Regions from separate parts of the Homo sapiens genome. Here region 2 is linked to region 1. Evidence: fine-mapped expression QTL. A gene starts in region 1. The other region holds a variant in brackets. All regions are shown on one strand. Distances are from middle to middle. Region 1 holds the start of DLX5 (distal-less homeobox 5). Region 2 overlaps LOC105375411 (a long non-coding RNA gene).

Evidence for each region.
Region 2: its variant is fine-mapped to the expression of DLX5 in left ventricle (GTEx, PIP above 0.99).

Annotation. Positions count from the first base shown.
Region 1 is chr7:97,022,650-97,028,025 of GRCh38, forward strand. It overlaps DLX5 (distal-less homeobox 5), which reads right to left and starts at 2,182. Exons shown (of 3, transcript NM_005221.6): 1 at 1,620-2,182. The coding sequence starts at 1,974. RefSeq lists enhancers at 1,688-2,404, 3,331-3,846, 4,925-5,124.
Region 2 is chr7:96,458,901-96,464,276 of GRCh38, forward strand. The region is part of intron 1 of LOC105375411 (a long non-coding RNA gene); the gene reads left to right. Among named protein-coding and RNA genes, the nearest start is that of SLC25A13, 140 kb to the left of the region's middle. The variant TC/T (reference allele first, on the strand shown) is at 3,084.

The DNA.
Region 1 (5,376 bases):
TGCGGTCGTTGCTTCTTCTCCCGGACTTGTTTTTACGCCCACCCTGTGCTCCTCCGCGTTTCCGCCCCTCCCCAGGCTTCAAGAACACCAGCCCCTCCCCAGGCTTCAAGGAGGTGGCCCTGGGCCGTGACCCTACTTCTGTCGGCGTCTGTTCGGGCGCCCGCAGAAGCCAGACTCTTGGGCAGGGAAGACGCTAACCGAGGTCTCCAAAGTTCAAAGACCCACAAGCAAACTGCTCCTTCACTTCAGCAGCAAGCGGTCGGGGCCGCCGCAGACAGAGGGTCGATTATGCAACCCCCATAATCTCGCTGCAGATCTGCGAGGGCACAGATGTGTCTGGTTTCTTTTACAAATAGACTTAATATGTTCTTGGCAAAAAAAAAAAAAAAAAAAAGAAATCTTCCACTTATGCACGGAATACAGAGAGAGTGAAAGAAACGTAGACACCTCAACCCGGGGCTCTCTTTTAAAGTTCAGCAAGAGTCACACACTGAGAAGGAACCGGTGGTGGGGTGTTTTCGTAGGAAAGGGGCGGCAGGTCAGGATGAGATTCTCACTGTCATGAGTATGGGTTTGGGCGGGAGGGGGAGGGATTGCCAAACGCGTGTTGTACAAACCTGCCCTGGGGCTACAACTCCCCTTCCTCAAAACTACCACCCCTCTGGAACTGACGGAGAACCTCTCCAGGGTGTGTGTGTGTGTGTGTGTGTGTGTGTGTGTGTGTGTCAAGTTCCAGGGAGAAGTGTGGAGGATGAGGGCTGTGGTCTCAATTCTGCCAGAGTAGGGGATGCTAATATTAGCAGGATTATTAATGTGCTGGTGGGAAGAGATCAAACCTTACCAATAAAACCTCTCCGCCGAGCCTCATGCCTTTCTCTTACCGCCCAAGCTCACTAACCCTCTTAAACTCTCTAAGTAAGTTTCAAAGCGGACGAAAAAGGAGGACGGAAAGACAAATTGTGGGCGCCTATGGAGACAGAAAAAAAAATCTATCCTACAACGTGACCCCTCAGCAACCCTCCTCCACCTTTAAATGGCTTTTTGTTTTTGGAAATGCCTGGATAAACCGCAAAACTCTCGGCGCGCTCTTCTCTGGCTGGCTACAACTCCTTAACCCCCCCACCCCCACCCAGCGTGCTCAGGGCACCCGCACCGTGCTAGCTTGTGGCGGCTCTCAAACTAATCCTGACTGAGTTTTTGAGGCAGCCTTCTATTCCCACTCGCACCAACCCAGCACGCTTACCAAAATTCCCAAGTAACCTTCTCTTTGTTACGCAAACGCCAGGAGCTGCTTGATTCTTTCTTCTCTCCACCCCTATCCCCTTTCCAGCCTAGCCGGCTTCCTGGCCGGGCAAGCTGGGAATTCAGCGACTGAAGGGCCTTGGAAGGTGCCGGAGGGGAGAGACGCTAGTTCGAACCTCCACAGGGCTCTCCTACTAAAAATCCCTAAAATGCTGGCCCGAGAAACTCTCTTTGTTGGAGGGTCTGAGTCCTACTCCCTTCTGCCGCGTGCGCCCCCACTGCCGTGAACCGCTGTGACCCCCAATCTACCACCCCATCTCGCGCCCCCAGCGTCCTAGTCGCCCTGTATCTGCCCAGCCTTCCCCCTGTCCATGTACCTGGCTGGTTGGTGGCGCTTGGGACGCGGTTGTAGGCGCCGCCGTACTGGTGGTAGGAGCTAGCGTAGCTATAGTCGGCATAAGCTTTGGCTGGGTAGCTCCCGGCGGAGCCGTTCACGCCGTGATACTGATACTGGTAGGGGTTGAGAGCTTTGCCATAGGAAGCCGAGGTAGGAGAGCAGTAGCCGTGCGGGGCTCCCCCCGTAGGGCTGTAGTAGTCAGAATCGGTAGCTGAAGACTCGGGCAAAGTTGGCGATTCCTGAGACGGATGGTGCATAGCTGCGGACGTCTGGAACGGAGCTTGGAAGTCGCCGGATCGGATGCTGGGGACCCTTCTGTCAAACACTCCTGTCATCGCTCACGGGCGGCGGCAGCGGCTGTCCTTGCTGTTGTGGCGGCGGCAGCTGCCCTAGTTGGCTGTGGGGCTGCTCTGGTCTAAGCAGACATGGCTGTGGGAGCGAGGGAGGAGGAGGAAGAGGAGGAGGAGAGAAGGAGGAGGCGGCGGCCGCGGCGAGGAGGAGACTGGGAGTCGTGAAGTCTCTGTCTCCGGCCGGCTGACTGCTGGCTGAGGCGCAGCACAGCCTTGGTTAAATCCTTAATTGCGCGCTTACGCACAGCGGGGTGGATCTGGTTCTATTGGCCAGGGCCTCGGGAGCAACAGTAACACCCTAACTCGTCCAACTAGTTTTAGCACAACAAAGCATTGCTTAAAAAGGGGGTGGGGGGTACTGAGGGGGTGTGTGTGTTTGTGTGTGTGCGCGCCCGCGCGCTTGTGTGTGTTTTTGCTTGTTGTGGAGTGGGGAGGGGTCTTAGTCTATCTGTTTTTAGTAAATTCCAAAGACATCGCAGAAGCCACAGCACAAGGCTCTGTGATGTCTGGGGACAATGTGTTCCAATCAGAAGCCTCAAAAGTGCACATGTTTTGGGAATGAGGTGGGCGACCATCTTTCCTTGCTTCCCACTACCCCGCCCCCGTGGGCTGCACCAAAGGCGAGTGTAGAATTAAACACTGATACTGAAATAGGGAGTCAAGGTGCAGGGAGTGGGGAGCGGGGGGATGTAGGATGGAGGCAAGAAGGAAGGGAAACAGCATTTTTTTTTTTTTTAGTGGAGTGTTGGGAAGCAAGTTGTAACTTACATGTTTTGAAAATTTGCTCTTTGGGGAAAGAGGCAACTTCCTTTGCAGGAGATGAGTATCTCCCGGACGCGGGCTGGACAGGAATGCCCAAGAAGGCACAATGTCCATTAAGCCGGTGAATGGCAGGGAGAGTTCCTGCAGCCCAAAGTCCTTATAATGACTTTTAAAAATTACTGTCTTAAACACATATAACTTAAGGAAGCCCAAATCCTCGTTGCTGGCTTGCAAAAAGAGCCAAACAGCTCCACTTCTGTTTAATATTTTCATCTATTTTCAAGACATTGGAATAAAGGCTCTTTAACTATGTTCAGTGGCCAAAGACTCCCGCAAAGGTGAATGGATCCATGTATAACCTGCCATACCTCCAGGAAAGAATGGGAAAGTCTCGGAAGTGGGGAAGGAGACAAGGATCAAAGCCTTTGCAAAGTCAGATGATGCTCATTGATTTCCCCCTCCTGGCTCCATGAATGTGGCCCAGTCTCTCCATTTCCCAGACCCGGGTTTCTGTACCCTCTCCCCTTTATTTCCTGCTGCAAAGACATCCTACTTAGCTCGTATGCAAGGGAAGAAAGGATTCAAGAATCATTCAGTTGATACACGAGATCTAAACTTTGCTCTTCAGGAGGTGCTATCCTTGTTCTAGTCGTGATTCAGCTGGGAGTTTAGAAATTCAGCATAAAAGTCTCTCCCAATCCCCATTGTTACTCCCCTCAAATAGGCAACTCCGCGGACTAGATCCTGATTTGGGGCCTTCCTACATCTTCCTTTACGGGGTCCAAGACCGGCAATCTGGGAGTTCCACAGGCTATCTAGGGTTATCTGGCCTCCCCTCCGTTTTCCCTCCTACCGAAGAAGAAAGCGTCTGTGTTAGTTGTGTCTAGTATTAGTTTAGCCTTACTTGGAGTGTGGAGCCACTCGGCCTAAAACAGGCCGACGGGTAGAGGTAGGGTGTCTGGAACTCAGAGCAAGATACAGCCCCGCTCAGGAACTCCAAAGCAGAGCTGCCGTGCGTGCACCAACTCCCTGCCTTTGCGGTCTGGACTGCACCAGAAAAACACAGCTATTGTCGCACTTCCTTTCGGGGGAAACTTCAGCACCGGGAGACTGGCGCCCAGCAGCATTCTCCTTCTCCCACTGGCCCGAGTCACGAGCTTTGGGCCTGGGCTGCCGCGGGCTTCTCTGAGATAGACTTCGGGGTAAACAGAGCTGCAGCTGCCAGCCAGCCCTGACTTGACGCTGTCGATTACCGACAGGCTGTTAACCGTCTAGATGTAGGCTGTGAGGAGCTAAAGAACAGGAGGGAAACATGGGTCTGCGGTCCTGGGCTCTGCTCTGGAGAAGTTATCGGCGCCCATCGAGTCACCTGATACACACTGCCATTTAATTACAGAAATCGCTTCCTCAGATCAATGCCAAGGACAGTTCAAAGCACCTCCCGGCAAAGACAAGTGGGCAGGGAGCCAGGCCTCCCTTCCTCTGGTCCCCTATCTTCGACACTTTTGGTTAAATAGAGATTTGAGTTACCACATGGTTATACTGAACAGGGTGTTCCTAGCAATGCCCTTACACCTTGCTGAGATGGCAGATTCTAACCAGGATGGGATTGGAAGCTGCAGAATTGGGGCAAAATTTAGAAGTTCGGGATCCGATTGAAAATAATGTTACAATGTCAAATTAGTTCTAGACCTTGCTAAATTTCACCCCCCCAAAACCCCGCAGTCAAAATGGACATTCTTTCCCACATTTCATAAAAGACAAAAAGGAGTGGGCCGGGAGGGAAGAATTTAACTTCTTTGTTTCGGTTCCTAAAGCGTTAGAACGTTGGCCCTCACGCAGACTTGAGCCATTCTGCTGCTGGGTGAGACCAAATCTGGATGTGTCTCTACAGGTCCAGAGCCTCAACTTTCTTGATTTTGTTCCTCTTTTCAAGGTTGACCCCACTCCCCACTCCACCCCTTCCTTAAAGGCAGCCGGGAGGGAGAGGAAGCACTAAGTTAAAAGCAGCGGAGAGTCTGTTCACAGTACAGTTTTATTTAATTTCACAATATAGGCATTGTAGCTCTGTGCACTGCCGGCTGCTCTGCGGGCCTGTCTGCGGCTTCGGACCCACGCTCAGGACATACACCGGCCAGTATCCCGGCTCTCGGAGCAGCAAACTTTTGCTGGTGTTGTGAGGGAGTTCTCACACTAGGGCCTCCAGCTTTGTCCTAAGGCCAGCGGGCTGGACGCTATTGCCTCTCAAAATCCACCGACAAATCCAGCCGTGGAGAAACAGCCCCACGGCATCAAACTCTTCCAGCAGTGCGCTTCCCGCTGAGACACGTAGGAAGAATGTAAGTAATTTCATCTTTTAGTAGCTGAAATCTGCAAAGGGAGGGAAGGGGAAGTAGCGGGAGGGAAGCCCTAAGATAAGTGCAAGTCTTTACCACGAGCGCCACCCAGTGTCCTCGAGCAACATTGCGCAAATGGCAAACCCCAAGCTCAGTCACTGGCCAGACACCAACTGGTCCTTAGTGTTAGAGTTCACTTCCAGGTGGCTTTCTTTCTCTGTACTTCCAATACATCTTTCTCTCAATTCCCATGCCCTTTCCTTTCCTTCTTGTACATTCATACTTTTCC
Region 2 (5,376 bases), 560 kb before region 1:
TCTTCACTGTTTCTGAAGTAGAAAGTGAGGTCATGCCTTGACAGAGAGATGGGTTTTGAACATGCTGCCTGAGAAGATTGATGAGGTTTTGAAATTATTATTTAAGGAGAGAAAACTGGCTAGGAATATATAAAGGATTTATAGGTTATGCTGAAAACCAAGCAAAAATTAAACATCTAGAATGTGAAGGGACACCAACATGCACTGTGAATGTGTATTCTCTATTATGAGCCAGTAGACCATGGAAGTTAAAGATAGGATTTTACAAGGATAGAGTGACAGAAGGATGTGGGACAAGGTTGTGGGGAAGAGTGTTAAAGAGGGATGACACGATGGATCATGAGGTCTAGGCTGAACACAAAAGGATGGAGAGAAAGGAGAGAATTGAAGTTCCAGGATAGGCATAGTGGGAATGAGGGAGTTAAAGCTGGAAAGATCCTGTTATTAGACAGTGACACACTGAAATTCATTACTTTAGAGAATGATGCCAATGTCTGAGGTATGAGAGTAGGTGAGGAAGTGGAGTGGGGTTTATAAGGTAAGCACATGTCACATATGGATATTGATTGGGATAGTTACCTGGACAGGACTTAGGTAGAGATAAGTATTATGATTCAGGGGCCAAAATTTTTGACTAAAACCATGACTAGGTGGTTGGTGGTTGACGGTTGAAGGGGAGGAGTTGCCATTATTCTCAAACAACAAACTTTTTTTAGACTCCAGGACTTGGAAATATTGGTTTGAAAGCTGCACTGGGGAGTGAAAAGAACACAGGAGCCACCTCTTAGAACTACCAAATATGGAACATGGGAATATGGCCCTTGAGAGGGCCACCACAGCAGTAGCCTTGGGAGATGCATCAAATTTCAGTAAGGTGAGGAGTGTAGCATGTGTTCTATGTAGCAGCTAAGAGTAGAGGGAAGTCTGTTTACTCTGAAACAAGTTTCAAACGGTTATGGGACATGATGCTTTTGAAGGAGAGGGGGAATTGGGGCTGGGTCAGATGCTTTTGAAGGAGAGGAGGAATTGGGGCTGGGTCAGAAGAGGGGAAGCGCAGAGGAGCTAAACTGACTGAAGAGGACAGCTGTCAGGAGAAGCTTACATTTTGAGGTCGTGACCAGGTTTGGCAGGAATGAAAGGCACAGAATTTGCTGACCTTCATGTACCTGGCAAAATCTGCCTTAGAGTTGTATCAGAGACAGGCTACCTTTCAAGACATGAGTCTCCTGACAGATAGTAGCTTGCTTTGTGGATGTTGAATCACTGTATATTCATCTGGTATTTTCTTTAAGTTATGAATCTCCTTAAAGGGTATCAGTTAATAGATATTTGAGCAAGTACTATGTGCAAAGTACAGAGGTTTTATAAAGTAGTAAGTGAGAGGATCTGACCTCATGGAGCCTACAGACTGTAGATTCTAAGGAGGAATTTATCGTTAAACAAATGTGTAAAATTCTACAAAAGGATTCGACATGTACAGGAGTGTATCTTATGATACTCAGCCTTGTGTGGGGTGGAAATGGTCTGCTTATCTTGCTCTCGTGTATGTAAAATAAGTAATGTAAAGAAGTGAGAAGCACCTTTAGACAGACTGACCTGAGGTCAAATCTGCTACTCCACCAATATCACTATGTAAACCTGAATTGGTTTTATTAAACTTTGAGCCAGTCTTTTCATTTCTAAATTGTAGACAGGTTATATCTTGTAGGGTAGTAGTGAGTACTAAGCAAGTTAATGTAAATATAGCATCAAGTATAGTGGTTAGCACATGGTAAGTAAGCAAAAGGTTAGTTTCCTTTCCCTAGAGTACTTCCTATAGGCACTTTATAAAATATGACTAAAACTATAAATGAAGGACTGTATTCTATCATTATTCAAGCTACCTCTTTGGCATTTTTATATTTTGATTAAGAAAATTATCTTACTCACTTAGGTGACAAAATTTTTTAGATGAAATTAAATGTATGGTGAAGGAGTATCTGATGAAACTGACTTGGCAGCTAAAAAAACCTGCTACTCTGTTTTTCTTTTATAAAATTGAATGCTTAAAAAAAATCTCTGTTTAGGATTGTCATGGGGGTTGTTTCTGCTTTTCACTTAAACTGTTGATTTGTCTTTATCCACACAGTATTATTTTAGTGACATGTGTAAATTTCAAGATGACCCAGTATTTAGTGACTTTACCTAATGCTTCCGGTTGAAATGTTTCTCAAGGGAAAGTCAGCCAACCATTTTTATTTTGTGCATAGTATAGGTAGAAAACACCAAAGCAATAAAAAACAAAGTTATTGACTAGTTTTGTTGTTGTTGTTGTTTGTGACAGGGTCTTCTGCTCTGTCACTCTCGCTGGAGTGCAGTGGCACAATAAGAGTTCACAGCAGCCTTGAACTCCTTGAGCCCAAAACTAGAGTAATTGGGATATCTATCACCTCAAGCATTTATCATTTCTTTGTGTTAGGAACATTCTAATTCCACTCTTTTAGTTATTTTGAAATATATGATTAATTATTAACTATAGTCATTCTGTTGTGCTGCTGAACACTAGATCTTATTCCTCTAAATGTATTTCTGTACCCATTAACCACCTCATCTTTATTCCCTCCTTCCCCGCTCCCCTTTCTAGCCTCTGCTAATCATCATTCTATTCTCTATCTGCATGAGTTCATTTTTTTTTAGCTCCCACATATTAGTGAGAACATGTGATATTTATCTTTCTGTGTCTAGCTTATTTCACTTAACATAATGACCTCCAGTTCCATCCATGTTGTTGCGAATGACAAGATTTTATTCCTTTTCTGGCTAAATAATATTCCATTGTGTATATGTTTGTACCACATTTTCTTTATCTGCTTGTTTGTTGATGGCATGGGTTGATTCCATATCTTGGCTATTGTGAATAGCGCTGCAATAAACATGAGGGTGCAGATATCTCTTCGATATACTGATTTTCTTTCTTTCGGGTATATACCCTGCAGTGGGATTTCTGGCCATATGGTAGTTCTATGTTTAGTTTTTTGAGGAACCTTCATACTTTTCTCCAAAGTTGATGTACTCATCAATCTTTGATGAGTAAGTGGGAAAAG[TC/T]CCACCAATAGTGCACAGGGGTTTTCTTTTCTCCACATCCTTGCCAGAATTCATTATTGCCTGTCTTTTGGATGAAAGCCATTTTAAATGTGATGAGATGATAGCTCATTGTAGTTTTAATTTGCATTTCTTAGATGATTAGTGATGTTGAGCATTTTTTCATATGCCTCTAACAAGAATATTTTTGACCTATGTTTCATTTCTTTGATCCTTCATAGTAAAACTTTGCAGAAGAGTTGTCTAAAATTGTTTTCTACATTCCTCAGGTGTTTTCCCAGCCCACCTTAATTAGAGTTTAGTTTCCTTTTAAAGGTCATCCATGATTTCCACATTACCAAATCCAATGACCTCTTCTGGGTACTCATCTTCCTCCTTATTCCAACTACGCTTGTCTCATTGACCACTTCCTTCCTTCTTAACTGCCCCTCCTTAGCACTTTCTTCTCTTGGCTCTTAGAGCATACTTTCCTAGATTTCTCCCTGCCTCTTGTTGGTTGCTCCTTTGCTGGATTTTCCTCCTCTGTTTTCCTCTAAATCAGGGGTGTCCAATCTTTTGGCTTCCCTGGGCCACACCGGAAGAAGAAGAAGAAGGAGAATTGTCTTCGGCCACATGTAATATATACTAACACTAACCATAGCTGATGAGCTAAAAGAAAATTGCAAAAAGATCTCATAATGTTTTGGCCAGGTGCAGTGGCTCACACCTATAATCCTAGCACTTTGGGAGGCCAAGGCGAGTGGATCACCTGAGGTCAGGAGTTCAAGACCAGCCTGGCCAACATGGTGAAACCTTGTATCTACTACAAATACAAAAATTAGCCAGGCATGGTGGTGGATGCCTGTAATCCCAGCTACTTGGGAGGCTGAGGCAGGAGAATTGCTTGAACCTGGGAGGCAAAGTTTGCAGTGAGCCGAAATTGCGCCACTGCACTCCAGCCTACGTGACAGAGTGAGTCTCTAGCTCAAAAACAAAAAACAAACAAAAAAAAACTCATAATGTTTTAAGAAAGTCTATGAATTTGTGTTGGGCGCATTCAAAGCCATCCTGGGCTGCATGCAACCTGTGAGCCATGGGTTGGACAATTCAGTCACTACAATACTTTGCTGATGACTTTTACAAGTCTACCCTGAACTTCTGCCTGGAACTCTAGGTCATCTATGAAGCTTCCAGCCTGACCCCTCTACTTTGATTGCCTGTTTTTCTGTCTTCTTGCAACCGCCCTACTGCCGCCATCATTCCTCTCTCCTCAGCTATTGTAATAGCCTCTTAATTCATGTCTTTATTACAACTCTGGGTACTCTTCTCTCCACCACCCAACTCATCCATTTTCCATACAGGAGCCAGAGTAACTTTCATTTTAAACACAACTCAGAATCTATCTCTTCCTTGCTTAAAATCCTCCAGTGGCTTCTTACAGCTCTTGGGATTTAGTCCAGCTTCTGCTGTGGCCTGCAAGGCTGGCCCTGCCTATTGGGCCACAGGCCTTCCCTCAAGCCTCAGCTTGTTTGTCTCTCCCCACTCACTGCCCCTGAGCCACTGAGGTCCTCTCTTGTCCTCAATCCAGCCCAGCTTAGGGCCGCTGCATTTGCTTTACTTTCTCTCTGGAATGTTCTTCCAATGGCTGGCTTGCTTTTATCATTTAATTCATTTAGTCTCCAGCTCAAATGTTACTTTTTCAGAGGGATTGTTCCAAAGAAATGCCACAGCCGCTGTCTATCATATTATCCTGTTTCATATTTTTCACAGTACTTTTCTCTGTGGAATATCTAATTTGTTCATCTGTCTGCCTCAGTAGAATGGAAATTGCATTAGAGCAGAAGTCATGTCTGCCATATTCACCACTACATTTTCTTCATATAGAACTGTGCTTCGTTCTTAGTAGGTGCTCAAAAGGTTATTTTTAAAAATAAATAAAGGAGTAAATGAGTAATGATAATAATACTATTTAACTAACATTGAATAGCATTTGATATTTTGGGATGTCCTTTCACTCATGTTATCTGGCTTCCTCTCCATGGTAACTTCTGAGGTAGGGACTATTGTTACGGTCATTTACAGATGAACTAAGTCATTTTGTGCCCTTTCACCTCCGCATCCAAAAGGGAAAGAAATTGCACTTTTTAAGCCTCCAAAGAAAAAGAGAATCAAGGAACTTTGGTAAAATTATTTAATAGGCTGAGCTAACCATCTGTGAACTTTTGCTTTTTGCGTTTTAACCAAATGTTAAAAATTGAACTACCTGTGTTTCTATCCTGAACACTACAAACCATTCAGAGAAAATGTTCTCTATTA